Homo sapiens: one gene and its partners. The protein of the gene in region 6 purifies or fractionates together with the protein of the main gene of each other region. This does not show direct contact. Each region holds a gene or a part of one and is shown on either strand. Other genes may lie near its edges.

Region 1 (4,151 bases), on a different chromosome or scaffold from region 6:
TAAGTTTCATTTTTATATTTGAAATGTTAACCTTCATGTAACAAAGGGAAGACTGTTACAATTCATCAGAGGAAGGGTCTTGTACCCCACCCTTGCCTGTGTGACACTTCTCTTTCTCTATTTTCCTCCTCTTTGTTCTTTCTAGCTCTTTTTTTCCCCCTCTCTGCCTCCTGCTTTTCTACATCCTCCTTGCTTGTGTTACAAGCTGTTATCAGCACCCGACATTGTCGGGTAACCTCACTAGAGCTGGTGGTGAGTAAACCCTGATCTTCCCTCCTTCCTTCATTGAAGGCATTCCAGAAATATACATTGAATTTACTTCCTGATATTCTTGAAAAATACCACAAAATCCAGGACAGAAAAAGCTAAAGCAGCCTCCGTTGGCATTTCCATGAAATACTAGACACCTGCAGTGCAATTCAGAAATTCTCACTATTTCCTATTTCTTGAAGACCTTAGAAGCAAATGAACTGTGGATCTTGAAAGTTCTATGCTGAGACCAAGTTTTAAGGTTCAAGCAGTAACTAGCAGTTATACTATAATCAAACCATTTTTTTTCTAAGCACCCAGAAATCTAGAATTTATCTTGGCAGGTACTCAGGAATGATTTTCAGTATAAAGCAGGAAAAGGGGTCAAGAGAGGCACGGCATGCTACGGGGAGAACTGTTAATTCACTGTGACTGTTGAAGGCAAAGCCATATGGATCTGATTTCTTTCTGAAACAAGAGTTGGCTGGAGTTAACAGCATGTGTTGGATCTATATGGTGTGAATCTGTAGGCTTTGGCAAAGAAGAGAAAATTCCAGGTGTTAAACATTAAACTAGGAATCCTGCTTCTGCTTAAAAGCAACAGATCCTATATGATTCCAGTTCAGTTTCTTCATCTATAAAATGGGGATATGTATCTACTTAATAAGATTTTTGCAAGGAGGAAATAAGATGATATCCATAAAGTGCTCAGCATAGAGCTTGGCATGTGATGCTTAATCAATGGTAACTACTGTTACATTTGTTTAAATAATGAAAGTTACAGAAATTATTATTTAAGCCTTCCATGCAAAAAGTGAAAGTGAAAGTAGCTTCCCAAATAAACTGAAGCTCAGTCCCAGGCACTTCTGTCTTTTTCCCTAGTCTTCCAAGATAGTTGGCCTTTGCAAGTATATGTGTGTATGTTACAAGTGACTGTCTGTATTTGTGTCTGTGTGTGTGTCTACTGCTTTCCCGCCCTATCCCAGACAAAGAAGGTGGTGGGAGAAGGAGCAGGGATTATTACTGAGTGAGGGATGAGTGAGGTTAACATTCAAGCTTGGGCTAGAGGGGAGGGATTAAATTATCTCCACATGTTCCTCCTGATGGAGTCAAGAATTTCAACTCATAATAAAAGTTACAGGGGTATGTAGTCACCTGTGAATTCATGAAACACAGCCCCTGCTGGGAAGATGGGATGGTTTCTGGACATTTGTGTATGTTCAAAGGAATCACTATCTTTGGAATTGGTTTTATTAGAAACTGAGGGATTCAGGTTCTAGTTTTTCTTTTGGCTTCGAGAAGACTGAATGTTATGGGTTTGGGATTGAGTTTAATGCAATCTATTTTAAAAAACAGAAGATATGAATAAACAAAAAATAGATGCAGTATATAACAGTCGTTTACTGAAATGTTGATAATCTATTTTGCATGCATATTTTGCCCTGAATAAAAGCCTAAACTCCTAATCATCAGCAGTTTCTCTTGCTGTGTGCAGCTTTTTTTCTTCTTGGCCATCTTCCTAAAGCCTTCTTAGCTGGACTCTTCGCTGTTTGGTCTGTTGTCTGATTCTGTTGTAAAGTGTCCTATAAATTTACTGTCTAGGTAGCAAGTAGTTGTTTGCCCCCAGGAAATGTACTTGTATGCTTAATTGTTTGGTCAAGCCTTCCCCATCCATCAAGCTGGTGCTCTTCCAAGATTGCAGTCTGATGTAAAATAAATGTGTTTCATGCAAGCTTTTCTATATGTTGTTAGCGGTGATGGGTAGAAAATTTCTGGAAGGTATAAAAATCATTGAATCCTTATATTTTGCTGCCAAGTTTACATGGAAAACTAAGTTTTATCATTCAAATGATCCAGCAAATCATCATCTGAAATGACATTTGGCTACAAAATTGAAGTTGGATAGAATCCAATTGAAGTTGGGTAGAATACTGTTAAGCCTGGATATTTATGCTTTAAAAATTTACATAAGATTTATTCTGCATAGGAATAAATGAACCTGTATATAAAAATTAGGAGCATCTGGGTGAAAATAAAATGTTTACTAGTGTCACTTTAATTTCTTTAATTTGGTTTAAAGTATTATTTCCACCGTATTCTACGCTTCCTCCAGCTGAGGGAAAAAATAACTACTTTTAGTAGATGATATCTTTCAATCATTCTCTCCTTCATATGCAGCCCTGGTTCTGGGACTAGGGGGACAAGACACTTCTTGTACCAAGAGAATGCTGCTTTGAGTAGAGTTTATTCATGAGAATATACCTTGCCTGCCACATTGAGAGAAGCCCGTTACATTCATCATAGTAAGCCTTTAGTAACTATTTCTTGATTGACTGAATGAGTGGAATTACACAATCTTCTCACTTGAATAGCAGTTGGAAAACTGGTTGAGGCAGGTCGGGGTTTAATACAACAGCAGACGGCCATGTATGGAGAGAAAACCCAGGAAGAGGAACTGGCATGTTTAGAGCAACAAAGGTGAACAGTGAAGGTGAGCTGGACTCTAGGAAGCAGAGTGATTTAACTCTGCTTCTTAATCTTCTAACACCTCTGGTTAAAGAATAGGTTTGTTTGGTCGATTGGTTTTCTTTTTTTTTTTTTAATACTTTAAGTTCTAGGGTACATGTGCACGACGTGCAGGTTTGTTACAGATGTATACATGTGCCATGTTGGTGTGCTGCACCCGTTAACTCGTCATTTACATTAGGTGTATCTCCTAATGCTATCCCTCACCCCTCCCCGCACCCCATGACAGGCCCCAGTGTGTGATGTTCCCCACCCTGTGTCCAAGTGTTCCCATTGTTCAATTCCCACCTGTGAGTGAGAACATAAGGTGTTTGGTGTTCTGTCCTTGTGATAGTTTGCTCAGAATGATGGTTTCCAGCTTCATCCATGTCCCTACAAAGGACATGAACTCATCCTTTTTTATGGCTGCATAGTATTCCATGGTGTATATGTGCCACATTTTCTTAATCCAGTCTATCACTGATGGACATTTGGGTTGGTTCCAAGTCTTTGCTATTGTGAATAGTGCCACAATAAATATACATGTGCATGTGTCTTTATAGCAGCATGATTTCTAATCCTTTGGGTATATACCAGTAATGAGATGGCTGGGTCAAATGGTATTTCTAGTTCTAGATCCTTGAGGAATCGCCACATTGTCTTCCACAATGGTTGAACTAGTTTACACAGGTTGATTGGTTTTCTTAAATTTCCAATCTGTTGAGGACCAATACTTTTGTAAAATCCGGTAACAATAAATTACTAGAAAAAATGATCTTGTGGCTTGACATGGTGGATCACCCCTGTAATCCCAGTAATTTGTTATAAATTAAAAAAAAGAACTTAGCCAGGTGGGTGGTTGTGCACCTGTAGTCCTAGCTACTAGGGAGGCTGAGGCTGGAGGATCACTTGAGCCCAGACTGCAGTAAGCAATGATCTCACCACTGCATTTTAGCATTGACAGAGTGAGACTTCATGTCTAAAAATAAATAAATAAATATGATCATGTGATATTAAGGCTTCTAAATGCTTACTTTCTATTTATGTACACATCTAATTGTGAACCAGTTTTTTTGTTTTTTGTTTTTTGTTTTAAAAAAACAGTTCAGTGCAGTTCACTGACTGACACTAGGGCACACTGAGAAACACTTGTTTTGGGAATGGTCAGAGATGAACTGGAAAGAGGTTGGCACTAAATTGTGAAGAATCTTGTATACCATTATAAGGATTTCAAACTTTACGCCATCAAAATTTAGACCAATCTGAAAGTCTTGCTCTTTATTATTTTCCTGGATTTGCATTGTAGATTAATTTGTTTAAAACTTTTGTGCCGAATAGATGTTTGATAAAATGTGTATTTAAAAAGCTATTTTAGCTTAGCAGTTATTGGATGGTGT
Region 2 (4,151 bases), on a different chromosome or scaffold from region 6:
TAAAAAAAACAAAGAACACCTGTCTTGAAAGCATGCAGTACTTTATATCAGCTGCTCATTCCCACATGACTTGTTGATGGGCATTTGTTCTTCAGTGCTTCAGGCTAAGGAGACTGAATGGATAAGTACTAGAGATACTTAATCATAAGTAATTGCAGTATTACATTCAGGCAGAATTATCCACACAACCCCTAAGCTCCATGGAACTTGTTCTTAAACTCCATGGGGTGGGTTTAAATCAGTTCTTTTGAAAGCAACCAGACTTTCCTCAAGTATAAGATGGCCACATAATGTAACAGACGCAGCTATGGATTTAGTACATTCGACTAGCAGCTGTTAGAGATGTGGTATTAGCAAATTCCTTCTCCATAAATTCTTTGAATTTTTTAAAAGCACAAATGTAGTAAAAGAAAGGAAAATATGTGTGAATGAAGTTAGGATGTATGGAGTCTGCTGAAGAATACCCTAGTGGTGAAGTTGGATTTTTTTTTTTTTTTGAGACTGAGTTTCTGATGCAGTGGCATGAGCTCAGCTCACTGCAAAACTCACTGCAAAACTCCGCCTCCCAGGTTAAAGCCATTCTCCTGCCTCAGCCTCCCGAGTAGCTGAGATTACAGATGCGTGCCACCTTGCCTGACTAATTTTTTTATTGTTTTTAGTAGACATGGGGTTTCACCATGTTGGCCAGGCTGGTCTTGAACTCCTGACCTCAAGTGACCTGCCCGCCTTGGCCTACCAAAGTGCTGAGATTACAGGCGTGAGCCACCACGCCCAGCTGGATTCTCTTTTAAGATATGTTTATAGTTGGCCGGGTACAGTGGCTCACGCCAGCACTTTGGGAAGCCGAGGTGGGCGGATCACAAGATCAGGAGATCAAGAACATCTTGGCCAACATGATGAAGCCCTGTCTCTACTAAAAATACAAAAATTAGCCGGGCGTGCTGGTGCTTGCCTGTAGTCCCAGCTACTCTGGAGGCTGAGGCAGGAGAATCGCTTGAACCCGGGAGGTGGAGGTTGCAGTGAGCTGAGATTGCGCCACTGCACTCTTGCCTGGGGTACAAGAGTGAAACTCCGTCTTGGGGGAAAAAAAAAGATGTTTATAGTCAGGTGGTGTGAATGTTATGCTGTCAAAGTTGAATGCAAATTTCAGATCTTTGCATGTACTCTCAGAATTCTAGCAGTATATGCAAATAGCTTCACTGGAGTGTAAAGCGATCCCGAAAGAAAGTTTTGGTAAGCACATTCTTTTACACCTAGTTTAGCAAGGACAGTATCCACTGTGGTACTCTATATGGAGAGCTAAAGCCTTAATTGACTGTCTCTCTGCTTCTTGGCATGGCACACAGAAAGCTTCCTGAGAGTTAGCCCTTGTTTCTGATGTCCCAGGAATGCTGTAGTGTTTTGTGTTGGTGTGTTTCTTTTGGTTTTAAGTAGTATTTGTTATGTGTTATATATTACATTTCCCATGAGTAGTTAATACATACAGCAGAGGTTTCAGTGCTGCTTGTATAAAGACATCAAACTATTTAATAGAGTTAGGACTATATGAACATTTTTTCTTACATTATCTTTCATTTGCAGTTTCCCAAGGTTTCTATGGTTCAGCCTTCTTCCTGAAAATTATTGCCAAAATCAAATTCTGCCATAGTCATGCTATCTGCTATGTTTGACAACCTCAGCCCACAGTGATCCTTCCTATCTCTAAATAAGCTTAGATCATAGTCTCTAGTTCAGTTTAGTACAACACCCATTTATTGAGTATCTATGACGTGTCAGGCACTGTTCTGTGTGCTAGGGTTGCAAAATGGGTAAAACATCGCCAGTCCTTAAAGAGCCAGGGTAATTGACTCCGATTTACATTGGGCTTTAGTTGTTAGGTGTCAGTGCATTGTATTTTCTCAATGATAATAAACATTTTGTTGGTAACAGAGGCTGAATTTAATTTTTTTGTATCTTTCCAGAGGTGATTCTAGTAAATATTCAGTTTATCTCACTTTGTCACTTGAAAGTGAGTTAACATTTCTTAAACACTCTCTTTGTGTCGAGGCATTTTTAAAAAAATGTCTTATTTCTAGTGGCCCTAGGAACTTCTGGAAAAGTGTCAGTTTGTACTACAGTAGTTATTCTGGAAGAAAGAGAATGGTAATAATTTATTGACTTGGTTTAATTTCAGAATCTTTCTGCCATCTGCTTTTGTGCAGTTACAAGGTTAAGAAGGAGAAAAAGATGGAGAAATGCTTATGATATCATTTAAGTGACACAAGCTGCAGGTATACTAGTATATACTGTATGATTACGATTACACAAAACATCTATGCTTAGGGGAAAAAACAGGATGAGAATGAACCAGACTGTTGATAGGGGCTGTTTATGAGTGGAAGTGTTACAGCAAATTGTTTTCTGCTTTTCTTTGTTTTTGTTTTCCTGGTTGATTCTTGTATTCCTTTGTCTGTTTTCCAAATGTTCTTTGATGAGGATATTTTTTGTGTAATGAAAAAAGTTGCATCTTGGTTTGGCTTCCAGTAGATACAATAGTGGAATTTTAAATTTGGCACTAGTAATGGGAAAATATAATTTGTTTGTTTAATGTGATAGCATGTGGATTGTGCCTTTTTCTAGCTTCTTAATATCAGCCACATTGGATGAAGGAGTGGCTGACTGGAAGTTCAGTTGCTTGATAATGTATTGTTTGTGACTCATTTGAGAGATTAGTTGCCACTGACTTTTGGGTGGGGGAGTCAGCTGTGGTGTCCTCAGCAAATGGTTAGCTGGAAAACTGAGAGCTGCCGAGATTACCGGCCTCCCCCCTTCTTTTTGAACACACTGACAAAACGATCTGAGTAATGGCCTTTGTTCACCTGTTCAAAGCGAGCCAAAATTTATTGAGCACCTACTCTGTGGCAGCCCCTGGAAGATCTCTGTTTTCTTCCTCTTGAGTGATAAAAATACAGGGTGAAATTGACTTCTGTTGAAACTAGACTCTGAAAGATGTTTCCCGAAGCACTCTGTCAGCTGATGTGCCCCATCACTTCTTCCTGCCCAACATGGACTTCCCTGTTGGATGTCTTTCTCTAAGGAAAATATTTAATGTCTTTAGAATGAAGTGCAGCTGCCTGGAAGCTTAGAGACAATGCAACAAATCCAAAGACAGCTGCTTTTTTTTTTTTTTTTTTTGGCAGGGGTGGGGCATGTTTTTCCTTTAAAGCATCTCTGTCAGGGTACTGAAACTTAATCAGCCAATCCATATTTATTTGGTAGTCTCCATTTTCATGGCAGTAAAGCATTCCATGGGCAAAGCAGGAGAACTTAAGATAATGTCTTCCCTTTACCAGAGGGAACATATAGTTTAGTCAAATAACAGAGCAGCATTTGGGTAAATATTCTGTGGGTTTAGAAGTGAGAGCACTTACTCTCTCTGGGCTGACCTGGTAGAGGAGAATTTCAAAAAGGAGCTGGACTTGTACAGATAATTGACTGACTTAAGTATAGATTTGGGAGGGACAGCGGTGTGGATGGGAAAGTGGAGGAAATAATGTGGGCAAAGGCATGGACTTGGGAATGCACATGTTTTGTTTTGGGATGAGTGAGTTATAATGATTAATAACACCTGCCAATTACTGAAAACTATGTGATAAGCATTGTGCTTATTGCTCTATCTGGGGTCTTAGTGAGCTTGGGCTTCTATGACAGAATACCACAAACAGGGTGGCATAAATAAGACATTTGTTTCACGGGCTCTGGAGCCTCACCTGGGTAATTTTTTGAACATTTTTTTGTAGAAACAAGGTCTTACTATGTTCCCCAGTCTGATCTTGAACTCCTGAGTTTAAGGGATCCTACTGCCTTAGCCTCCCAAAGTGCTGAGATTATGGGCATACACCACCATGCCCTCCCTGAATTTCTTTTCAGTTATTCTACTTGTTATATGTTGTGGTTTGTATACCTGTGAGTTTCTTTCTTTCTTGAGAATTCTCAGTTCTTATCCATTCAAATATCACCTAGCTTGTACCTGCTTAACTTTTTCTTTCTGTGACTGCAATTAAACATGTTTAGTCATTCTGTCCTTCAATACTGTTAACCTCCTTTGTCATTTTTTCATGTTCTTGTCTCTCTGTGCTATTCTGGGTTCTTTATTCATTTTTGTTTTACAG
Region 3 (4,151 bases), on a different chromosome or scaffold from region 6:
GGGCCTCTTTTCTGATGGGGAAGCAAAACAACAAATGATATATGTAAGAGAATTACATATGTACGAAGATGATGAATTCTATGGCGGAAAGAAGTGTAGTAGGTAAGGGGGATTGGTCACAGGTGGGCAGGTTAGTAGGGTAAGCTTCATGGGCAACATGAGATTTAAAGAGAAACTTGAAGGATCGGGGGCTTTTCCCACATGGACACCTGGTGAAGAGTATTCTAGGCAGAGGGTGCATTAGAGCCAAGTCCTGAAGGCAGGAACATGCCCAGGAATAGTGAGGGGATTAGTGCAGTTGGAACAGAGTGAGCAACCAGGAGGGCCTAGGAGATAAAAAGTGTAGAGGGTATTATAAGGTCTTCTAGGCCATTGTAAGCACTTTGGCATTTAACTGAGTGAGACTGGCATTCAGTGCAAGGTTTTAAGTAGAGGAATGGTGTGCCTGCTTTGGCTGCTGCCTTGAGAATATTCTGTGGGGGACAAAGGTCATATAGTTAAGAGATAGTGGTGGTTGGGATCAGAGTCTAAACTGCAGGTGATGAGGAATGGTGAAGATTCTGGATAAATTTGAAGATAGAACCAGTATGATTTCCTGGCTGAATGGAAGTGGGGTTTGAGAAAGACAAGTTTTTTAAACACTCTCTTGGCTGACTACGCATAGGGTCATCATCTGGTTTAAATAGCATGTATTTCTGGTGAAGGCTTACATCAGTAATTTTCTAAATGTTCTTTTAAAATAATTGTTAATGTGTAAACTTTAGGTTGTTTTTGTTTGGTTTCAAACTCCATTTCCTACCTCATTGATTTGGTTGGTTCATCTGATTAGGTGGGAGCTTCCTCTCATTCTGCTTGATAAATGCATCGTGGAGTGACATCCTAGTTGTAGAGGACTCTACTTCAGTCTGTTCAAATCCATGTTTATGGAGTAGTTGTTATATCCCAGAGACTTCCTTGTGCTTGGGATATAATGAATACAGTGAGACCTTTAGCCCTGATCTCAAAGGTTATTTTGCCATAATGTATAGTTGGTGCCACCCTGCCAGTGTGGGCAAAATGCTATGAGAGGCAAAATGAGGAGGCTCTGAATTCTGCCTGTCTGGTACACAGAGAATGCCTTTCTAAGAGGTATTACTCTTTTTTTTTAACTGATACATAATATTTTTGTGGTACATGTTATATTTTGTTACATGCATAGAGTGTGTAATGATCAATTCAGGGCATTTAGGATACCCATCACCCAGAGCATTTACTCTTTTGAGACAGCCTTGCTCTGTCCTCCAGGCTGGAGTGCAATGGCACAATCTTGGCCCATTGCAACCTCCGCCTCCCGGATTCAAGTGATTCTTGTGCCTCAACCTCCCAAGTAGCTGGGATTACAGACATGTACCACCATGCCTGGCTAATTTTTGTATTTTTAATAGAGATGAGATTTCACCATATTGGCTAGTCTGGTCTCGAACTCCTGGCCTCATGTGACCCGCCTGCTTCAGCCTCTCAAAGGGCTGGGATTACAGGAGTGAGCCACCGCACCGGGCCCATTTACTCTTGATCATGAATGATGAGTACTATCTAGGCTAAACAGCCAGTTTGCTGGTTTTCCACAGCAAATTAGAAAGGAGAGGAAAAGGGATAAATAGTAATCAGTCTACCTGTTAAAGAAGAAAAATTCAGTCCATTTATTTAAAAATATGCATAAGCTTTGCAAGCATAGAATTCTGAAATCTTTTGATACAGATACCTTAATAACTCCTGATAGTACTACTCATGCAGTACTGCTCAATAATGTATTTTAATAGAACTTTCTCTTAGTGGGACAGTATAAATCAGTATCAATACTGGTAATGGTAATATCCCCCAAATCATGACATATTCCTGCTATAGCGATATAACTCAGATGTTCTCAGGACAGCAAGTTTACATGTGAATAGAGAGGGAGGGACGTGTTAGGAAGACATGAAATTCAATTTTGTACTTTTGATACTTTCCAGAGTTCTAGATGACACTTTCCAAAGTGTCAAGAAATGGTTAAATTATTTTCAGTTTACTTTTAAGAAATGGTTTAATGTGGCCAGGTGCGGTGGCTCATGCCTGTAATCCCAGCACTGGCTCACGCCTGTAATCCCAGCACTTTGGGAGGCCGAGGTGGGCAGATCATGAGGTCAGGAGATCGAGACCATCCTGGCTAACATGGTGAAACCCTGTCTCTACTAAAAATACAAAAAAATTAGCCAGGCATGGTGGCGGGCGCCTGTAGTCCCAGCTACTCGGGAGGCTGAGGCAGGAGAATGGCGTGAACCTGGGAGGCGGAGCTTACAGTGAGCCGAGATCGCGCCACTGCACTCCAGCCTGGGCGACAGAGCGAGACTCTGTTTCAAAAAAAAAAAAAAAGAAATGGTTTAATGTAAGTGACGAATTTTGAAAATTGTGGGCCTTTTAGACAGTGATTATTTTAGTGTTCTAATCTAGAAAATCTACATAAAGAGAATGCCTTATTTTTGGACATTGTGAATAAATTAGACTTGATTTAATAACACCTGTCAATATGTATGTTAAATAACAAAATACTATGTCTGGCATGCTGCTCCATGCTTCATATTTAATAGAAGTGTTTTTCTTCTAGGTTCAAAAGATGTCGTGATAAAGGCACAGGTTTTAGCTGGTGGTAGAGGAAAAGGAACATTTGAAAGTGGCCTCAAAGGAGGAGTGAAGATAGTTTTCTCGTAAGTCACATTTTTTAAGGAAAAATCATCCTTGTTAAAGACTGATTAAAGATTACTTATTGAATTGATGAAAATACTGAAATTTAAATATTAGATGAGATAAAATTTTGGCTATTATGTGGATTTGCTTTTTCTCAACTGGAGGAAAGAAAAATTTGAGTTCTTTTTCTTATTTTAGTCCAGAAGAAGCAAAAGCTGTTTCTTCACAAATGATTGGGAAAAAATTGTTTACCAAGCAAACGGGAGAAAAGGGCAGAATATGCAATCAAGTATTGGTCTGTGAGCGAAAATATCCCAGGAGAGAATACTACTTTGCAATAACAATGGAAAGGTCATTTCAAGTGAGTAATTGTAGACATGATACATACGGGATAAATTTATGACATTCAATTTCAAAAGTCCATTATTGTTTCTATTTATGTGGGAAAGATTTTAAAAGTACAAATTATAATCTGTTTGTATGTCATGAGCATGATATTTATGTCATTTAAAAAACAGCTTCTTTAATGCCGTAAAATTTGATATATAATATCATGATCTTAAAATTATAGGAAAAATTCTGCTGTAATAAATTTCATGGGATTCTCAAATTGTTAATTCACTAAAAGCAGCTTAAATCATCTCTGGATCATCTCCAGATTGAGAAAATTATATCTAGCATAGTAAAATATTCTAATGAAAGAGAAAGTTGCTGAACCCACTAGAAGAATGTGTATCCATTGCCTCATCTTCTGTTTTCTCAACTTCTTGGGTTTGTTTTTTTTTTTTTAATAGTTTCGGGTTTGTTTCACTATATGATTCAATATTTGGTAAATTGAGGGATGACATTAAGTAGCAAACAATATGGTTTTAAGGAGTATTACATTAGCACAGCTCTCCTCTCTTTATGGAACCTAAAATGTTGAACATAAAGCTTCTGGTGAAGAGAAAATCCCTTTATAGACCTGGTGTTTGGAAGAGAGCATTGATAATCATTTTATACTAGAATTATCTGTTTTTCGAGGGTATTAGGTTTTACAAGCTGAATCTGTGTGTTAACTAGCTTGTTTTTTGAAGCAACTGGGTATATATTTGAAAGCCCCAGTACGGATTTCATGTAGAACATTAATTGTGTAGAATTTAGAGTAACAAAAATTTTAAGAGTCATGAAAATAATTTTCTTATGTAGAACAACTTTTTTAAAAATAACAACTTTCTGTATTGTGATTTTTCTTATTTACAATTAAATCTATTAATGTTTGAATGATATGTCTTTTGCAACTTTTAATTTTTATAAGGAAGTATTTCTAAAGATATAACACTAGATGGTAGTAAAAATCCACTCAGAATATAAAATTAAGAAGCATTGTTTTATTCTTAAGTGATATTCTATGTGATAGAATTTAGTTTGTAAGTTATTTTAAAAATCCCATGACAGTAACCTCATAT
Region 4 (4,151 bases), on a different chromosome or scaffold from region 6:
TTTTCTATTTAAATGACTGGAGAAAAAAACTCACAAGTATCTCTGAATTGGGAATGTAGTAGTTTAGATTGAATATAGATGTTTTTCAAAAGGCATTTGTTTCATTATTCCTAAAATGAAGAATTTGGCCTGTATGACTCTCAAGGTCTCTTGAAGCTCCAGTGAGTTTCTGACCCATTGTTGTGGACATTCAGGGCTTTCATTCAGATGGATTTTGTTTCTCATCCAAGAATTTAAACTTGTAAGACCAATTCCAAGTAAAATCCTTATTTGTTGACTTCTATATGTATCATCAAAATGGTAGTTTAAAGAGGAACTTGTTCTAAAAAGTAACCTTATAAGACATTCAAAAGCATTAGACTGCAATTGAGTGAGTGTAAACAAAGCAGTATAATGTGATGATCAAGAGTGCAGGCTTTGGACGGTGACAGACTCAGGTTTGAGTTCCAGCTGTCAGTAGCTGAGTGATCTTGAGTAATGCAAACTTCAGTTTCATCAGTTCATCATCTGTAAAGTGGAGATTACAATCATGTCCATTCCCTAGGGATGATGTGAGGATTAAATGAGATAATGACCGCTTAGATTTCAGCCTGAGTCTCAGTACATGTTAGCTATTACTACTATCCTTTAAAAAGGAGCATTATTTTTTATTTATTTTTCTTCATGTGTATATTGAAAACTTGATTGTTAATGCTGCTGTCATGGTAAATAGGCCATTTGAAGGCCCCACATAGAGATTTGTGCTTTTGCTTATGTAACTTTCTCAGAAAAGTGACCAGCTGCACTGTGTCTGCAATTGCCAATTCTGGTGAGGAAGTTAATATTTTTATTTGAGTTTCTGGGAGAGACTTTATGGCTTTTTTTTTTCTTTTTTTTCTGTGAACCAAATCTTTCAAGTGGGCCAGGTATCACTTTCTCATAGAGTATTATTGTTGTGAATAAGAGAAATAGAGTGTGGTACCCGGCACACAGTGGGAGTGTTATAGATGTTAGCTGAATTAATGAATGTGGAGTGGTGTGTAAAAACGTAATATATTCATATGGAAAATATGACATCACAAAATTAACACTGTTCAATGGAGGAAAATAAGGAATCTAATGAATCTTATTTTTAACGACCTAAATTTTAGAAACCATTTTGTTTGGGTGATACTAGATAGTTGTGAACATTGTGCTTTGTAATAATGCCAGTATTTGCATTAGATGATTCATGGATCTTTTTCTTTTCTGTCAAGGGCTGTTTGCTTCAGTGGTTTAGCAATTTTCTCTCACTGAGTACATTTTTAGAGGTGTATTTGCTAATTGATTGCGTGTTTCCTCTTTGAACTGAAATGAGCAACAGAAGACACATCTTATCTATGGCAGCTGTGGCACAAATGACATGCCGAATGTCAAGCAAAAAATTTTGAAATAATCCAAATAAGATTTGACCAGAAGAAATAGTTTGCCTTGACATAAAGCCCTTCCTAAGGAGATCACAGGCTTTCAGTCTCTCAGGCTACTGGCTAAAATGTCACTACTGATATAATGCAGCACCCAGGCATGAGAAATTGGTTCGGTCTGGGAGGATAGGCCATGTTACTACATCAGGACCCATTCCCTGGGTTTGTTTTACAAGGTTACTGGATCCAAATTAGAAAGAGATACAGATGGGTTTTTGTGTTGCCAGACGCAGTAGAGCTTAACTTGTGAATATACCAAGATTTAAAACCACAAAAGGAAATAAAACCCCTTAGATGTGAGGTTGGAATTCATTACAGGTCTGACTTCGCTTGATTAATACAGATCCTTATGAGAAATTAGACTGTTTTAAGGGAATCCCATTGTTTTTTCTCATTAATACAGATTTGATGTGAAACAGTTTCTTTTGTGGAATATGCCTTTAGACATTAATAAAAAGCAACATTATATTATCTTTATTTTAACTTTAAAATAAAGTTTAAATAAAAATAATTATTTAAATTAAAAAAAGATTTAATTGGGCCTTGAAAGATGACCAAATGTAATTAGAAAAGTGCTCTGTCAGTTTGAACATTGTTTTTCATTAGTCTGAGGTACTTTTTAAAAGTAAGATGTTTTGTGTGTAAACTCTGAAACTTGCTGGGTCTGTGTAAAGGTTTTTTACAACGATTCGGGAAGGAGATAAAGTGCTAATATCTATTAAAATGAAGTATGTAGAGAAACAGTGAGTGACCATGTTGGATACCATACAAGAGATGTTCAACAAAAGTTTGAATAAAATTATGCAGAGTAGTTTTGGAAAAGTGAATTTTATGAAAATCGTTCTGATGTATTCTATTCAATTTACTGTTTGCAGTGAGAGTACAATCTGGACAGGATCAGAAGTAGAGAATGAAGTTGTAAGAGAAAGGGAAAGACAGAAGAAAGGCTGCAGTAGTACAAGGAGAAAAGCAGGATGCAAGAATGAGGAATGAATCTTTGTTTGAGGAGCATCCGGAAAAATATAAGCTGTCAGAAAGAGTAAATAGACCAGGGACCTCTAAAGTAAATTCACACATCAAAGTTAAAATAATGTTGGAGAATCACCTCCTGTGAAAAATTGGCTTAGCTTTCAGTATGCCTCTTTAAACAAAACATTATCATTTTATACAAATTTTTAAAATGTTGTTCATAATATGGAGTTTAATTTTAAGCACCTTAGATAATGCATTTGTAAGCTTGTTTGTGAAATTTTTATGGATTTTTTTTTTCAAAATTCCTAATTTTAGTTGGTAAGGATTAACTTCGGGAAGACAGGAAACCCCTCCAGTAAAATTAATTGGTTATAAATGGTTACATATTTTAGGCTTATATACATAACAAAACTTCTTACTGAATTTAAAAGTGATCTTGTGTAAAAACATTATTCTAGTGATATTGATGTCTAAATTTAAAAGAGTGAATACACAAGTAAAATATATCTGCTTTTTAAGGATCTATTCAGTTTAGGAAGGAGAGTCAAAATTTGTATTTAATTTCAATTTATTATATTGTCTGAAACTGAAAGTAGGCCTAACTTTTGTTTGCTTTTGTGTATGTACAAAGGCAAACATTTATCAATCAACTCTTATTAATTTGAGATTATTTTGACCTGATTGCTCAGAACTTTTGTCTATCTGTATAGAAATGGGGTTTTCTAAATATTTAAAGAATTTCCTACGTATGTAAATTTACTTGCACACAGTAAGTTAGGGGAGACATTTAATATTCCTCAGATACCTGCTGTTTTCTTGTTGTGTTTCTTGTTTTTCAAATAAATAAACTGAGTGTTATCTGTTCATTAAAATAGAATGTAGTCAGCTCGAGGGAAACATTTTGTATTGAGTTTCTTGTACTAAAAAGCACTAAATGGTATTCTCTTGCATTTCTGAAACAATTATGGAATGTTTTAAGACTAGCCTTCCTACCAAATAATCTTAACTACTGGAGCTTTATGATATACTTTATGGTATTTTCCAGAAATATGTCAATTTTTTTTTAAAGATGGAGTCTTGCTCTGTTGCCCAGGCTGGAGTGCAGTGGCATGATCTCAGCTCACTGCAACCTCCACCTTCTGGGTTCAAGCAATTCTCCCTGCCTCAGCTTCCTGAGTAGCTGGGATTACAGGCGCCAGCCACCATACTCAGCTAATTTTTGGATTTTTAGTAGAAATGGAGTTTCGCCATGTTGGCCAGGCTGATCTCGAACTCCTGACCTTAGGTGATCTGCCCACCTCGGCCTCCCAAAGTGCTGTGATTACAGGTGTGAGCCACTGTGCCCGGCTGAAATATGCCAATTTGGATATCCTTCTCTTGCCTTATTAAAAATCATCGGTCACCCAGGTATTACTTCAAATTTACTAGACAGTGAAATATAAATGAGATGGTATGAAATCACTCTGAAAGTATTAGGGTTGGATATATTATGTAAGTTTCTATAATTAGAAAGCATTAAGTCCCAAATCGTACCAATAGTTTTAATCATATCTAAATGGATACTCACATACTAAATGTGATTAAATATAAAATGCATAACGAAATGTCACATCCTTTCCTGATAGAATACTAATAAGGCATAGTATTTCATGTGCAGGAAGATACAGGAAAACACACAAGTAAGAGTTTGTTTTGCATATATAAATTGTTATGCCTTTGAGATTCTTTTCTTCCTGA
Region 5 (4,151 bases), on a different chromosome or scaffold from region 6:
TCCGGCCTAGGCAACAGAGCGAGACTCCGTCAAAAAAAAAAAAAAAAATTACTTGAGAGAAATGTTTGTGAAAATACTATAGTGAGGCCGAGCATGGTGGCTCATGCCTATAATCTCAGCACTTTGGGAGGCTGAGGCAGGAGGACTGCTTGAGTCCAGACGTTCAAGACCAGCCTGGTCAACACAGCAAGATCCCAACTCTACGAAATAAAAAAATCAGCTAGCATGGTGGCATGTACCTGTGGTCCCAGCTACTCTCAGGAGACTGAGGTGGGAGTATCCCTTAAGCCTAGGAGGTCATGGCTAAAGGAAGCCATGTTTGAACTACTGCACTCCAGCCTGGGTGATACAGTGAGACTCTATCTCAAAACAAACATAAACCATAGTGCTTGGTATTCATTCAGTATGTATTGGCATTCATTATGTGCCTGACACTGAAGACAGAATAATTGTGGCATGTTATATTTTCCAAAGATGGCTGAGACAGCATCTTCCATTCCATATGCTCTTCTACATTCTCTCATTGAGAAGTAGAGCCCACTTCTTGAATCTGGTATGACCAGTTATTCACTGCTTGACTTCTGAGGCTAGTCAGAAAAGGCAATTGGCTCTACATTGTGCTGGAACACAAGCTTTTGGAGCCCTGAGCTTCTATGTAAGAAGTCCGACTACCTGGAGACACCAGGCTGTGAGAAAGCCCAGGCCATACAGATAGACCACATGCAAGCACTCTAGTCCACTGCCCCAGCTAAAGGCCCAACAGATGGCCAGAATCAACAGCCAGACATGTGCATAAAGATGCCTAGAGATGACCAGGTTCCAGTTATTGAGACTTTCCAGCGGGGATGCCAGACATCATGGAACAGACATAAGCCATTCCCACTGTGCCCTATCCAAATTCCAAAGCAAAAGAATCTATGCGCATAATAAAATGATGTTTCCAGGCACTACATTTTGGGGTGATTTCTGACACAGCAATAGTAATCAGAACAGTGATGAACCTGACAAGTTTCCTGCCTTCATAGAGTTTATATTCTAGTGGGGAAAGACATATAATTAGCAAGAAAATGCCAAGACAATAATATGAATTATAAAATGCTGGGATAACCGTATACCCATGTGCAAAAAAATGATGCTGGACCCTTTCCTTACACCATACACAAAAAATCAACTCCAAGTGATTCCTAGAAGATATAGTCAATATTTATACATTTCAGTGATTCATTTAAAAATTAGCTTGAACTAACACCTAATCTGAAAGCTTTAGTATAGTCTTACTGTAGGAACTAAAGCATTTTTTTCTTTTTCTTTCTTTCCTCCCTTTTTTCTCTCTCCTCTCTTTCTCTTTTAGAGATAGGTTCTTGCTCTGTCACCCAGGTGTGATCATAGCTCACTGCAGCCTTGAACTCCCGGGCTCAGACAATTCTCCTGCCTCAGCCTTCTGAGTAGCTAAGACTGCAGGTGCATGCCACCACACCAGGCTCATGTTTTAAAAAAACTTTTTATAAAGATGTGGGTCTCACTATGTTGCCCAGGCTTGTCTTGAACTCCTGGGCTCAAGCAATCCTCCTACCTCAGCCTCCTCAAGTGTTGGGACTAATACAACTGAGCCACCACAGCCACCCGACTGAAGCATTTCTAATGTTAACAAGTACATGGCCAGGTGCAGTGGCTTATGCCTGCAATCCCAGCACTTTGGAGGACAAGGCAGGAGGATGGCTTCAGCCTGGGAGTTCGAGACCAGCCTGCACAACACAGCAAAACCCCGTCTCTACAAAAAATACAAAAAGTAACCAAGTGTGGTGGCATGCGCCTGTAGTTCCAGCTAGTCGGGAGGCTGAGGAGGGAGAATCACTTGAGCCTGGGAGGCTGAAGTTGCAGTGAGCCAAAATTGCGCCACTGCATTTCCATCTGGGCAACAGGGTGAAACCCTGTCTCAAAACAATAATAATAATGATGCTAACAAGCACACGATCTGTAGAAAACTTAAACATAGTGATAACCATGATTTTTTTAAACTCTAAGTGGATTACAGAATTAAATATAAGTGCAAAAACTAAAAAATCTTAGAAAAAAGCACAGGAGTAAATCTTCATAACCCTGGGTTAGGCAAAGCCTTCTTAGATATTATGTCAGAAGCACAAGCAACACATCAAAAAGAAAACACAACAAGGGTATGGAGAAAACAGAATGCTTATACATTGTTGGTGGGAATGTAAATTAATACAGCCATTATGTAAAACGGTATGGAGGTTCCTCAAAATATCAAAAATAGAGCTACTGTATGATCCAGCAGTCCCACTACGGATATACATCCAAAGGAAATGAAATCAGTATGTCAGAGATATTTGCACTCACATGTTTATTGCAGCACTATTTACAACAGCCAAGATATGGAATCAATAAATGTCCATTAATGGATAAAGGAAATATAGTGTATATACACAATGGAATACTATTCAGCCATAAAAATGAATAAAATCCTATCATTTGCAACAAAATGGATGAACCTGGAAGAGACTATGTTAACTGAAATAAGCCAGACACAGACAAATACTACATGATCTCACTCATTTGTGGAATCTGTAAAAGGTGATCTCACGGAAGTGGAAAGCAGAATTTTCTTTCCATAGGCTGAAGTGGTTAGGGGAGGGGGAATGGGGAGATGTGGGTCTAAAGGATACATAATTACAGTTAGACAGGAATAAGTTCAAGAGCTCTACTGTATAGCATGGTGACTACAGTTAGTGATGATATATTCTTGAAAAATGAAAAGATGGTAGACATTAAATGTTTTCACCACCAAAATAACTGTGTGATGTAATACATTTATTAGCTAGATTTAACTACTCCACAGTGTATATATACTTCAAAACATAATGTTGTACACAATAAATACATACAACTTTATTTCTCAATTTAAAAAATCTTGGCTTGGCACGATGGCTCACATCTGTAATCCCAGCACTTTAGAAGGCCGAGGCGGGCAGATCACTTGAGGTCAGGAGTTCGAGACCAGCCTGGCCAGCATGGTGAAACCCCAACTCTACTAAAAATACAATAAAATTAGCCGGGTATGGTGGCACATGCCTGTAGTCCCAGCTACCTCGGAGGTTGAGGCAGTAGAATAGCTTGAACCAGGGAGGCGGAGGTTGCAGTGAGCCGAGATCACGCCGTTGGACTCCAGCCTGGGCGACAGAGCAAGGCTTCTGCCTCAAAAAAAAAAAAAAGAAAAAAAAAAATCTTCTTAGGCCGGGCACAGTGGCTTGTATCTGTAATCCCAGCATTTTGGGAGGCCAAGGTGGGAGGATCACTTGAGGTCAGGAGTTTGAGACCAGCCTGGGCAACATAGCAAGATCTCATCTCTACTAAAAAAAAAAAAAAAATAAGATTAAAAAAAATTTAATCATTTTAAAATTTAAACTTAAAAAAGCATAAGCAACAAAAGGAAAAATAAATAAATTGGACTTCATCAGCAATAAAAACTTCCATGGGCCAGGCATGGTGGCTTATGTCTGTAATCCCAGCACTTTGGGAGGCCAAGGCAGGGGCTTGAGCCTGGGAATTCAAGACCAGCCTGGGACCAGCATGGGAAACATGGCGGGACTCCATCTCTACAAAAAATTTAAAAATTAGCTGAGTGTGGTGGCACGCACCTGTAGTCCCGGCTACTCGGGAGGCTGAGGTGGGAAAATCACCTGAGCCCAGGGAAGTCAAGGCTGCAGTGGGCTGAGATCACACCACTGCACTCCAGCTTGGGCAACAGAGTGACATCCTGTCTCAAACAACAACAACAACAAAAAATGTCTGTGCTTCAAAGCACACCATCAAGAAAGTACAAAGACAATCCACAGAATGGGAGAAAATTTTTGCAAATAATTTTTCAATCAGGGTCTTGTATTCAGAATATATAAAGAACTCTTAAAACTCAACAACAACCAAAAATACCCAATGACAAAAATGGGCATAATTTTGAATATCTATTTCTCCAAAGATATGGCCAAGCAGCATATGAAAAGATATTCAGCAACATTAGTCATTAGGAAAATGCCAATCAACATAATTTATGAGATACCACTTCACATCCACTAGGATGGTTAAAATAAGACATAATAAAAAGTTTTTGCCAGGTGTGGTGATGTACACCTGTA
Region 6 (4,657 bases):
AGCCGGGTGTGGTGGCACGTGCCTGTTATCCCAGCTACTTGGGAGGCTGAGGCACAAGAATCGCTTGGACCCCGGAAGTGGAGGTTGCAGTGAGCCGAGATCCCGCCACTACACTCCAGCTCCAGCCTGGGTGACAGAGCAAGCGTCTGTCTCCAAAAAAAGAAAGAAAGAAAAAAAAAAAGAGTTCTTTACATGGATACAAGTCCTTTGGCAGATAGATGCTTTGTAAATATTTTCATTCAACCTGTGGCTTGCCTTTTCACTTCAGAGGTGCAATTTACAATGCGTATCACTCTCTAGATAAGCTCCACGAGGGAAGGGAGTAAGTCTGCCTTTCCCTGAAACCTGGTAAAATGCCAGGCACATACATGTTCAATAATATCTTGTTGAGGGAATTAAATGCCTGCAACCTGAAGTTCCTGTCCGCCAGGGGAAACCAAGCTTAAGGTTCTGAAACACGAGGCACCTAATATGGGGGGGGGGGGGGGGTTAAAGCCAATTATGGGTATTCGGACTCGAAATAGTTTCTAACAAGGCGTTTTGGGGTTGGGGGATGCTCTCCCCACGAGATTCCAGGATTTCAGTAGAGGGCCTTTAAGGGCTGGTTGAAAGATGGGTCTTGAAGCTGTATTTGCACAGAACTATACTAATTTTACTTAGAGTGCTTTATTAGATGTAGCTTGGAGATTATAGGGTGCCACTAAAGAACCACTCCCAAGTTATCCCTTTGACCCTAGTCCTGCAGCTGGGAGTCTCCTTAGGCTAGGAGCTCCTGCCTGCCCTACAAAAGCCCACCGGAGGGCGCAAGGGCTCCAATCCCGATTGGAGTGAGGAAAAATATGCTCCAGGAGCGGCGGGTGGAGACGCTTCCTTTAATAGGTATTTAAGTGTCCACGGTGAAGGCTCAGGAGTTTACAAGGCTAGCAGGGTTGGGGAATCTCAACAAAGGGCGGGGCGTTGCTCAAGCTCCATCCGTCCGTCCGTCCATCCCTCCGTCCCTCCAATCCTCCATCCATCGCGCTGCTCAAGCTCCATCCATCCATTTATCCATCCATCCATCCATCCTTTATTGAGAGTAAAAAGCCGCCAACCAGACCCTGGGAGGAAGACAGGATGGTTCCCGAGAACTAGGGCTGCTCCTTGGCTTTTAGAGGTATCTACTACTTCCAAAACCTTTTGAGACCCCATTATCCCGTTTGATGAAGATGGAGTCTGCCACGTGGGGGTTCCAGATAAGACAGCTGAGATTCGGAAGGGCAGGCGACTCCACCTAGTCACGGGGACGCTCTTTTTGACGCTCCAGGGACCGCAGGGTCTGGGAAAGTTCCTGGTTACTCCGGCGACCGGCCGGCCGTCACATGACATGTGAGCCCGGGCGGAACGCCCAAGAGGCTTCCGTAGTCGGGTGGCAGGTCACGTGTCGAAGGCTTGCCCGCGGGGACCCCTTCCACCCTGGCTCCCGCGTCACATGACCGGCTTTAAGCAACATGGCGGCTGCCGTGGTGCAGCGCCCGGGCTGAGCGACAGCAAGTGCAGCGGGCTCCTACCCCGGGTGAGGGGTGGCCTCCGCGTGGGATCGTGCCCTCTTCAGCCCGCTCCTGTCCCCGACATCACGTGTATTCCGCACGTCCCCTCCGCGCTGTGTGTCTACTGAGACGGGGAGGCGTGACAGGGCCCGGGTCCCTTCTCAGTGGTGCTCTGTGCTTCAGGGCAAGCTCCCCGTCTCCGGGCGCACTTCCCTCGCCTGTGTTCGGTCCATCCTCCTTTCTCCAGCCTCCTCCCCTCGCAGGTGGGATCGTCGGTGGGACCGGAGCGCGGGCGGGCGCGGCCCCCCGGGACCATGGCCGGGTCCGACACCGCGCCCTTCCTCAGCCAGGCGGATGACCCGGACGACGGGCCAGTGCCTGGCACCCCGGGGTTGCCAGGGTCCACGGGGAACCCGAAGTCCGAGGAGCCCGAGGTCCCGGACCAGGAGGGGCTGCAGCGCATCACCGGCCTGTCTCCCGGCCGTTCGGCTCTCATAGTGGCGGTGCTGTGCTACATCAATCTCCTGAACTACATGGACCGCTTCACCGTGGCTGGTAGGGACTCACTTCTGGGAGGAAGATAGTCTAGGAGAGGGGAGCCAGGGTCCCGAGGGTGGCGCTGCTTTGCCGGACCATCCTGAATTTTCTCCTCAGGCGTCCTTCCCGACATCGAGCAGTTCTTCAACATCGGGGACAGTAGCTCTGGGCTCATCCAGACCGGTGAGTGGGGACCACTCCTGGTCACACAGCCGCTCCTCCTTCTGTTCTGTCTCAAGTGGGGCCACGCGCTGGCCTGTCTAGGGGCTCATTAATGGAGGTTTTGTGGCCAGTTAGGGGAGGTGATGGCCCTGATGTTGCTCGGGGGTCAGCGGGACACCACATTTAAAGAGGGAGTCAGTTTAGTATAACTAAGTATAACTTCACCCAGGTGAAGACAGACCTGGGTTTAAATCTCAGCTCTTCCACTTATTGTGTGATGGTAGGCAAGGCACTCAACCTCTCTAAGCCTCATTTTCCTTGTCTATAAGATGGAACAAGTAATAACACGAATCATCTCTTAGGACTGATGTGAAGATTAACTAAAAGATTGTCTGTGAAGGGCCTAGTGCAGTGTTTGGCACATGGTAGACACCCAGTAAATAATGGCAGGAGGGTTGGGTGTGGTGACTCACGCCTGTAGTCCCAGCACTTTGGGAGGCCAAGATGAGTGGATCACTTGAAGTTAGGAGTTCAAGACCAGCCTGGTCAACATGACGAAACCCCATCTGTACTAAAAATACAAAAATTAGCCAGGCATGGTAGCGAGCGCCTGTAATCCCAGGTACTTGGGAGGCTGAGGCATGAGAGTTACTTGAACCCGGGAGGCAGAGGTTGCAGTGAGCCGAGATCGCACCACTGCACTCCAGCCTGGGTGACAGAGCGAGACTCCATCTCATAAATAAATAAATAAGTAAAGGCAGGAGAGGGTGTCTGGAATGGGGAGAGGTGTGTTTTACTTGTTCACAACTTTGGGACTTGTGGGAGAGGCAAAGCTAGAGCCAAGCCCTTTTTCTTCCTTCCATCCTTCATTCATTTCTCAACCATTTCTGAGTACTCATTGTGTGCCAGGCCTGGAGGAAGTGATGATTACACCTGTAGGACTTTGCGAAGAACTTTTATGCCCCTTGTCTTCTAATCCTTCTATCAGTCAAAAATAGGTGTTACTGTTCCTATTTTATAGAGGAAGTAGGTAGTGATATCTACAGCTTATAAAGAAACTGAGGCTTGGAGAAGAGTTAAGACTTGCCCAGGGTCACACCACCAGTTGGAGGCGGAACAGGAATTTGAAACCAGGTCTTGCAGTGTTCTTTTCTCTACTCCAGGCCAATGAGGAACTGGAGGTATTTGAGGTGAAGTCTGGAGCAATGAGAATGGGATCATAGGGCAAGGTCTTCAAACCTCTGAAGAGTTGTTGAGTTAGAGCAGCAGCTCTTTCTAGGCAGCCGGATTTATTCACTCTCTTCACATGCTTATTGAGCACCTGTTTTGCACTAGGCTGTGTGTTAAGTAAGTGAAAGAAACACAGTCATGGCCAATACAGGCAAGGACCTTGCCTTGGGAGCTGATAGTACGCTATGCATGAGGCAGCAACAGCCAGTAAAACGCTAAACTAAAGTGGGACAGTTTTCCCATAGGGATAAGTGTTATGTAACAGAAAACAGTCCAGGCGCTGTGGCTCACACCTGTAATCCCAGCACTTTGGGAGGCCGAGGCGGGTGGATCACGAGATCAGGAGATTGAGACCATCCTGGCTAACATGGTGAAACCCCATCTCTACTAAAAATACAAAAATTAGCTGGGCGTGGTGGCACGCCCCTGTAGTCCCAGCTGCTTGGGAGGCTGAGGCAGAATTGCTTGAACCTGGGAGGCGGAGGTTGCAGTGAGCTGAGATCGCGCCACAGCACTCCAACCTGACAACAGAGCGAGACTTCGTTTAAAAAAAAAAAAAAAAAAAAAGAGAAAAAAGTAAATGTGAGAGTCAGGTACTGGATGTGTGCTCACCTGGGCAGCATGCTTCACCCTTGGCCCTGGGCAAGTATCTGAGCTGGAACCTGAAGGAACTATGCTCTGTGAAGTTTCAGGGGGAGAGGAGAGAATGTCCTTGATAGAGGAGGCAGTAGGTGCCTAAACCCCTAGTGGTATTGGCCTTGACAATTGGGCCATTGGGATGCAGACAGAGGAAGGGAAAAAGGCTGGCCATGAGTGTGGAGAGGTAGGCAGGGCCTAGATTGGACAGGGGCATTGTGAGCCATGGTATGCATGGAGTTTGGAGCTTGTTTTGGCTAGGTGGAAGGAATTGACAAGTAGTGGGACCATCCATTATACAATGGGAAATCTGGAAAGGTGTTCAAGATGGAGCTGGACCATCCGCCTGACAGGAAGCTCTGATGGGCTTCAGGCTGGGATGTGGGGGTGTTGTGAATTCTGTAAGGAGAAGGCAGGCATCTCCTGTGCTTTAGTGGTTCCAGCTGGGGTGGGAGTGGGAGGTAGGGGTACCTGGGCTGAGCTGTGACTCTCTGCTTCCCCCTAGTGTTCATCTCCAGTTACATGGTGTTGGCACCTGTGTTTGGCTACCTGGGTGACAGGTACAA
Region 7 (4,151 bases), on a different chromosome or scaffold from region 6:
GGGGGTGGGATTAGGGCATGAGGTCCTTTCTTATCTGCTTTGGGGTTAGAGAGTGAGTTTTTTCCAGTCTCAGGCCATGACATTAATCCTTTGGGGGGTAGCTGAAGCCACTAGCACTGTCATTTCTGAGCCCACAAGCCTGCTTCTCCAGGCATGGCACAGAACGAGGGACGAAACAATTGTTCCTCCCTTGAGACAAACTTCACATCGACCACTGTCACCAGATTTTATCTGAGCCTAGCCTGGTTGGTTTTTTTTGGGGATGGGGGGTGGGTGCTGGACCTGAGCGACATCACCTGGGTATACTGAAAGCTAACATTTGACCATTGGCCGTATGCCCGATGGGTCACATGATGCAAACTCATTTCCCAAGCAAAGTGCAGTGAGGTTGTAGAAAGAGCATTGGCTTTGGCAGCAGAAAGAACGGGCTCTCATGATCTGGCTTTGCCGCTTCGCTGAAGAGAGGCCTTCTGCAAGGCTCTTAGCCACTAAGAGCCTCAGTTTCCTCATCTGTACACTGGCAATAATAGCTCTTGCCTTGTAGAATTGCTAGGAGAATTCAAGATATTCCAGGGGCAGGGCCCCAGCCAGTGCCTGGCACATAGAAGGTACTTAATACATGGCAATTATTATTCTTGTTATGACGGTTTTAACATTAAGCTAGAAGTCCATGAAGAATGGTACCCTGCCACCCACCAATAAGACCTTGAATTCTTTTTCCTTACCCAGGAGGTTTCTTTAAATTCCTTCCATGGCCACATCACTGTGTCTCAAAGAGTGGCCCTCAAGCACTTAGCTCCCAGGGAGTTGTAGCAATGCAGATTCTTGGGCTCCGCTCCCAGACACTGATTGGAAAGGTCTGGGTGAGCCTGGAAGTCTTTTAACTAGAGTCTCGAGAGATTTCCCATGTGCTTGGAAGCTTGATTACTGCTGGAGGTCATCCTGGCCAGCCTGAGAGGTTGGGAGAAGGGCAGGAGCAGCCGAGCCAGCTGCTCCAGAAGTTTCTTTCAAGAGAATCATGCCTGGGGGGAGAACAGAAGGAAGGGAATCTGAGCCGAGAGAACAAGGCAGTGGGGACAACCCTGAAAGAGGACTGGAACCCCCAGCTCTAGAGGCTCCTGAAAGGCTCCAAAGGGAGAAAGTTTAGTGCTGGGAGCTAATCACAATAAAAGCCAACAGTACACAAGGGAGCGGGATGAAAGTTTAATTACATGGTGTGGCTAAGCTGTAATTATTAATTACTGACAGCAAAAAATAACTTATTGATCAGGGCCTTTCGCTAATTACCAGGAGGCCGAGTGTCGTGCTTGCCTGGGGCTCAGCTGTCAAAAGCCCCACTCGAGAGTGGAATGGGGGTGTCCCTGCTCTCCCATGCCCCTCTTTCCCTCACCCTTTGTACCCCTTGGCTTCCGCGGGGGAGTCCGGAACATTCTGGCAGTGGTTAGATGAGGGATACAGCTTGGTGCTTCCACTGGCTGCAGAAAATGGCCCCTGCCTGGGAGGAACAGAGTCAGGACCCCCACCCAGAGGCTACATCCCGCTGGCAGCCTGACACCTGCCTCGGAAATCCCACCCTCGACCCCCCCACACACACACCCCACCCCCGCTTCATGCATTTGTTCGGCAAATATTTATCGACTGCCTCTTCCTCGTGTCCTCTACTGGAAGGCCGGCATAGGGGCCAGGAACCTTGTTCTACAAGGGAAAGGAGGCTGGGAAGGAGGCCAAATTCTTTACAGCGATCCTCTGTTTAAACAGCGCCTGAATGGCTGACTTTAAAATGAAGTGTTAACCTGCATATTGGTCCACATTTGACTTTGTACCACAGGACGCAGTCGGGCTGTAAGCTAACAAGGAGGGGAGAATGGGCTTATCTTCTGTCCTAAGGACTAATGGGAATCATTGCATTTGACTTGAAAGACACACGAAAAGTCATCTAGGACCGTCGTCTGCCCACAAGGCCATCTGGTCTCTGCTTGCATACCCTTGATGATGGAGGACTCACTACTGCTCAACACCAGCTGGCTGTTAGCTATGTTTTATGCTGATGAAGAAATTGTCCCCTTATAGCTGGTTTTCCTAGGATCTGGCTGTGGTTGAAGGGGTCCTCTGATTGGCTGGAACCCTCTCCCTGTCCCTACGGACTCCCAGCCCCTCTGGGAGGCAGGAGGCTGAGTTGGAATTGATGTCGGGTGTTAGTGTGCGCCCTGCGGGGTTTCTACCCCGCTCCCCCTGGAGCATGTTGCCACAGACAGCCCTGGAGCTGCCTAAAGCGGTGGGAATTAGTCATCATAATTTGGGGCCTTGGGATGCCAATAGCAACAAATGGGCCAGCAGCAACTGGCGGCTGCAGCCCACTGCCTGTAATGGAAAGGAAAACAAGCTGGTTGCCGAGACACCCCGGGTGCCCCCTCCCCTAGGTGTCCCACCCCTGCTGTCCATGTGCTGGGCAGGAGGCAGAGCCAGTGAGCAGCGTTGAGCAGGGATGCTCAGCATCCCCGGGGGAAGGGAGAGAGGGGACTGCAGGGCTTGTCCCCTCAGACTCCCTGGGCCTGGTGCCTGGACCAAAAAGCCTCTTGCTGAGCCCAGGGAGCCCTGGGGAGACCCTTCTCCTGCAGACGTGGTGAATGGCTCCCAGCGTGGCTTCTGCCCCTTTGAATCCTGCCTCCATCACTGGGCGATGCTGAGCTGAGCCAGTTTTCTCATCTGTAAAATGAGTAAAGTTAAAAATAGTTGTGTCTACCAGCCAGGCACAGTGGCTCACGCCTGTAATCCCAGCACTTTGGGAGGCCGAGGCCGGCAGATCACTTGAGGTCAGGAGTTCGAGACCAGCCTGGCCAACGTGGGGAAACCCCATCTCTATTAAAAATGAAAAAATTAGCCAGGCGTGGTAGTGGGAGCCTATAGTCCAAACTACTTGGGAGACTGAGGCAGGAGAATCTCTTGAACCTGGGAGGCGGAGGTGGCAGTGAGCTGAGATCGTGCCACTGTACTCCAGCCTACACAACAGAGCGAGACCCTGTCTCATTAAAAAAAAAAAAAAAAAAGACTGTTATCTACCTTTTAGAGTTGTCTTGGATAATCAAATGAGATTGTCCAGATCACTTTGAAAATGCCCTTTGTAAATGTTAAGTTCTTATAATGTGTCCATTACAGTCCAGGAGGGTGTCCTGATCACTGCCCCTCTACTCCCCAGACATGAACCTCCCCTCCCACCTCATCTCCTCACTCCCCCTGCATTCACTCCTGTCCCCACACTGACTGCCTGTTGTTCCTGGAATTTACCAGGCCTCCAACCTGGCACTTGAAGTTCCTGCCTTTCCATCAGTGGTGCCCACACCACCCAGATGTCTACAAAGTTCACCCTTGTTTCCTCCAGGACTTCCTCCTAATATGTCTTATCCATCTCGGAGCACCCTATAACGTGGCATCTTCCAGCACCCACTCCCTCGCTCTCCATCATTTTCTCCATTGCACTCAGCTCCAGCTGACATATATTGACTTGTTTGTTTATTATTGGTGTCTCTGGAGGGCAGGGGCTTTGTTTCATTCACTGGTATATTTCTAGCCACTAGGGCAGTGCCTGGCACGTAGGAGGAGTCAGCATAATATGAAGACTGAATGAATGAATGAATGCTTACTGGAGGCATACAGCCCACGGTCATCTGGCCCCTCCCAGCTCTCCAGCTTCCTGCCAGGCCTCTCGCCCCATCTCCAGAGCTGATTGACTTGTGAAATGCCTCTCGTCTCTGTACATCCAGCACACCCCATGCCATGTAGCCCTCAGCGCACTGAGCAGCCAGGTACCTCAAGAGTGGGGGCCCCGCCCTCCAGCAGCTCCCGCAGATGCATCCATGGAATGGGGTAGTGTTGCCATTGAGACAGGAGTCCCTGCTCAGATTTTCTGGTCATTTTCCCAGCTCTTCCTGATTCTGGCCCGACAGATGAATCTGCCTCTTAGCAGGCCTGGCATCTGGGTTGGGCAGCCCCTGGGTCTCTGCTGAAGCCCCATCAGCTGAACTCCAACTTTATGATGTGAAGGAAATTGAGAGGAGGGGTAGAAGGTTTAGGGGGTAATGCCATTCATACATGGATGTACCATTTGAAATACACAAGGTCCTTGATTAATGCTCCAGAGGAAAAGGGAGAGG

What was found.
Region 1: the proteins of SPNS1 (region 6) and AASS purify together in Homo sapiens (affinity purification with mass spectrometry; one large-scale study listed by BioGRID and IntAct). This does not show direct contact.
Region 2: the proteins of SPNS1 (region 6) and JAM3 purify together in Homo sapiens (affinity purification with mass spectrometry; one large-scale study listed by BioGRID and IntAct). This does not show direct contact.
Region 3: the proteins of SPNS1 (region 6) and SUCLA2 purify together in Homo sapiens (affinity purification with mass spectrometry; one large-scale study listed by BioGRID and IntAct). This does not show direct contact.
Region 4: the proteins of SPNS1 (region 6) and NPTN fractionate together in Homo sapiens (co-fractionation; one large-scale study listed by BioGRID). This does not show direct contact.
Region 5: the proteins of SPNS1 (region 6) and POLD3 purify together in Homo sapiens (tandem affinity purification; one large-scale study listed by IntAct). This does not show direct contact.
Region 7: the proteins of SPNS1 (region 6) and SDK2 purify together in Homo sapiens (affinity purification with mass spectrometry; one large-scale study listed by BioGRID and IntAct). This does not show direct contact.

Annotation. Positions count from the first base shown.
Region 1 is NC_000007.14:122,133,971-122,138,121, reverse strand, and holds part of AASS (alpha-aminoadipic semialdehyde synthase, mitochondrial), read left to right. Parts: intron 1-4,151. UniProt on the Homo sapiens protein: Bifunctional enzyme that catalyzes the first two steps in lysine degradation.
Region 2 is NC_000011.10:134,071,833-134,075,983, forward strand, and holds part of JAM3 (junctional adhesion molecule C isoform 1 precursor), read left to right. Parts: intron 1-4,151. UniProt on the Homo sapiens protein: Junctional adhesion protein that mediates heterotypic cell-cell interactions with its cognate receptor JAM2 to regulate different cellular processes. Plays a role in homing and mobilization of hematopoietic stem and progenitor cells within the bone marrow.
Region 3 is NC_000013.11:47,987,454-47,991,604, reverse strand, and holds part of SUCLA2 (succinate--CoA ligase [ADP-forming] subunit beta, mitochondrial precursor), read left to right. Parts: intron 1-2,623; coding exon 2,624-2,723; intron 2,724-2,901; coding exon 2,902-3,064; intron 3,065-4,151. UniProt on the Homo sapiens protein: ATP-specific succinyl-CoA synthetase functions in the citric acid cycle (TCA), coupling the hydrolysis of succinyl-CoA to the synthesis of ATP and thus represents the only step of substrate-level phosphorylation in the TCA.
Region 4 is NC_000015.10:73,626,565-73,630,715, reverse strand, and holds part of NPTN (neuroplastin isoform b precursor), read left to right. Parts: intron 1-4,151. UniProt on the Homo sapiens protein: Probable homophilic and heterophilic cell adhesion molecule involved in long term potentiation at hippocampal excitatory synapses through activation of p38MAPK. May also regulate neurite outgrowth by activating the FGFR1 signaling pathway.
Region 5 is NC_000011.10:74,595,266-74,599,416, reverse strand, and holds part of POLD3 (DNA polymerase delta subunit 3), read right to left. Parts: intron 1-4,151. UniProt on the Homo sapiens protein: Accessory component of both the DNA polymerase delta complex and the DNA polymerase zeta complex.
Region 6 is NC_000016.10:28,973,312-28,977,968, forward strand, and holds the start of SPNS1 (protein spinster homolog 1), read left to right. Parts: upstream 1-1,466; 5' UTR 1,467-1,468; coding exon of another isoform or gene 1,469-1,552; 5' UTR 1,553-1,789; coding exon of another isoform or gene 1,790-1,840; coding exon 1,841-2,081; intron 2,082-2,180; coding exon 2,181-2,246; intron 2,247-4,596; coding exon 4,597-4,657. UniProt on the Homo sapiens protein: Plays a critical role in the phospholipid salvage pathway from lysosomes to the cytosol.
Region 7 is NC_000017.11:73,637,703-73,641,853, reverse strand, and holds part of SDK2 (protein sidekick-2 precursor), read left to right. Parts: intron 1-4,151.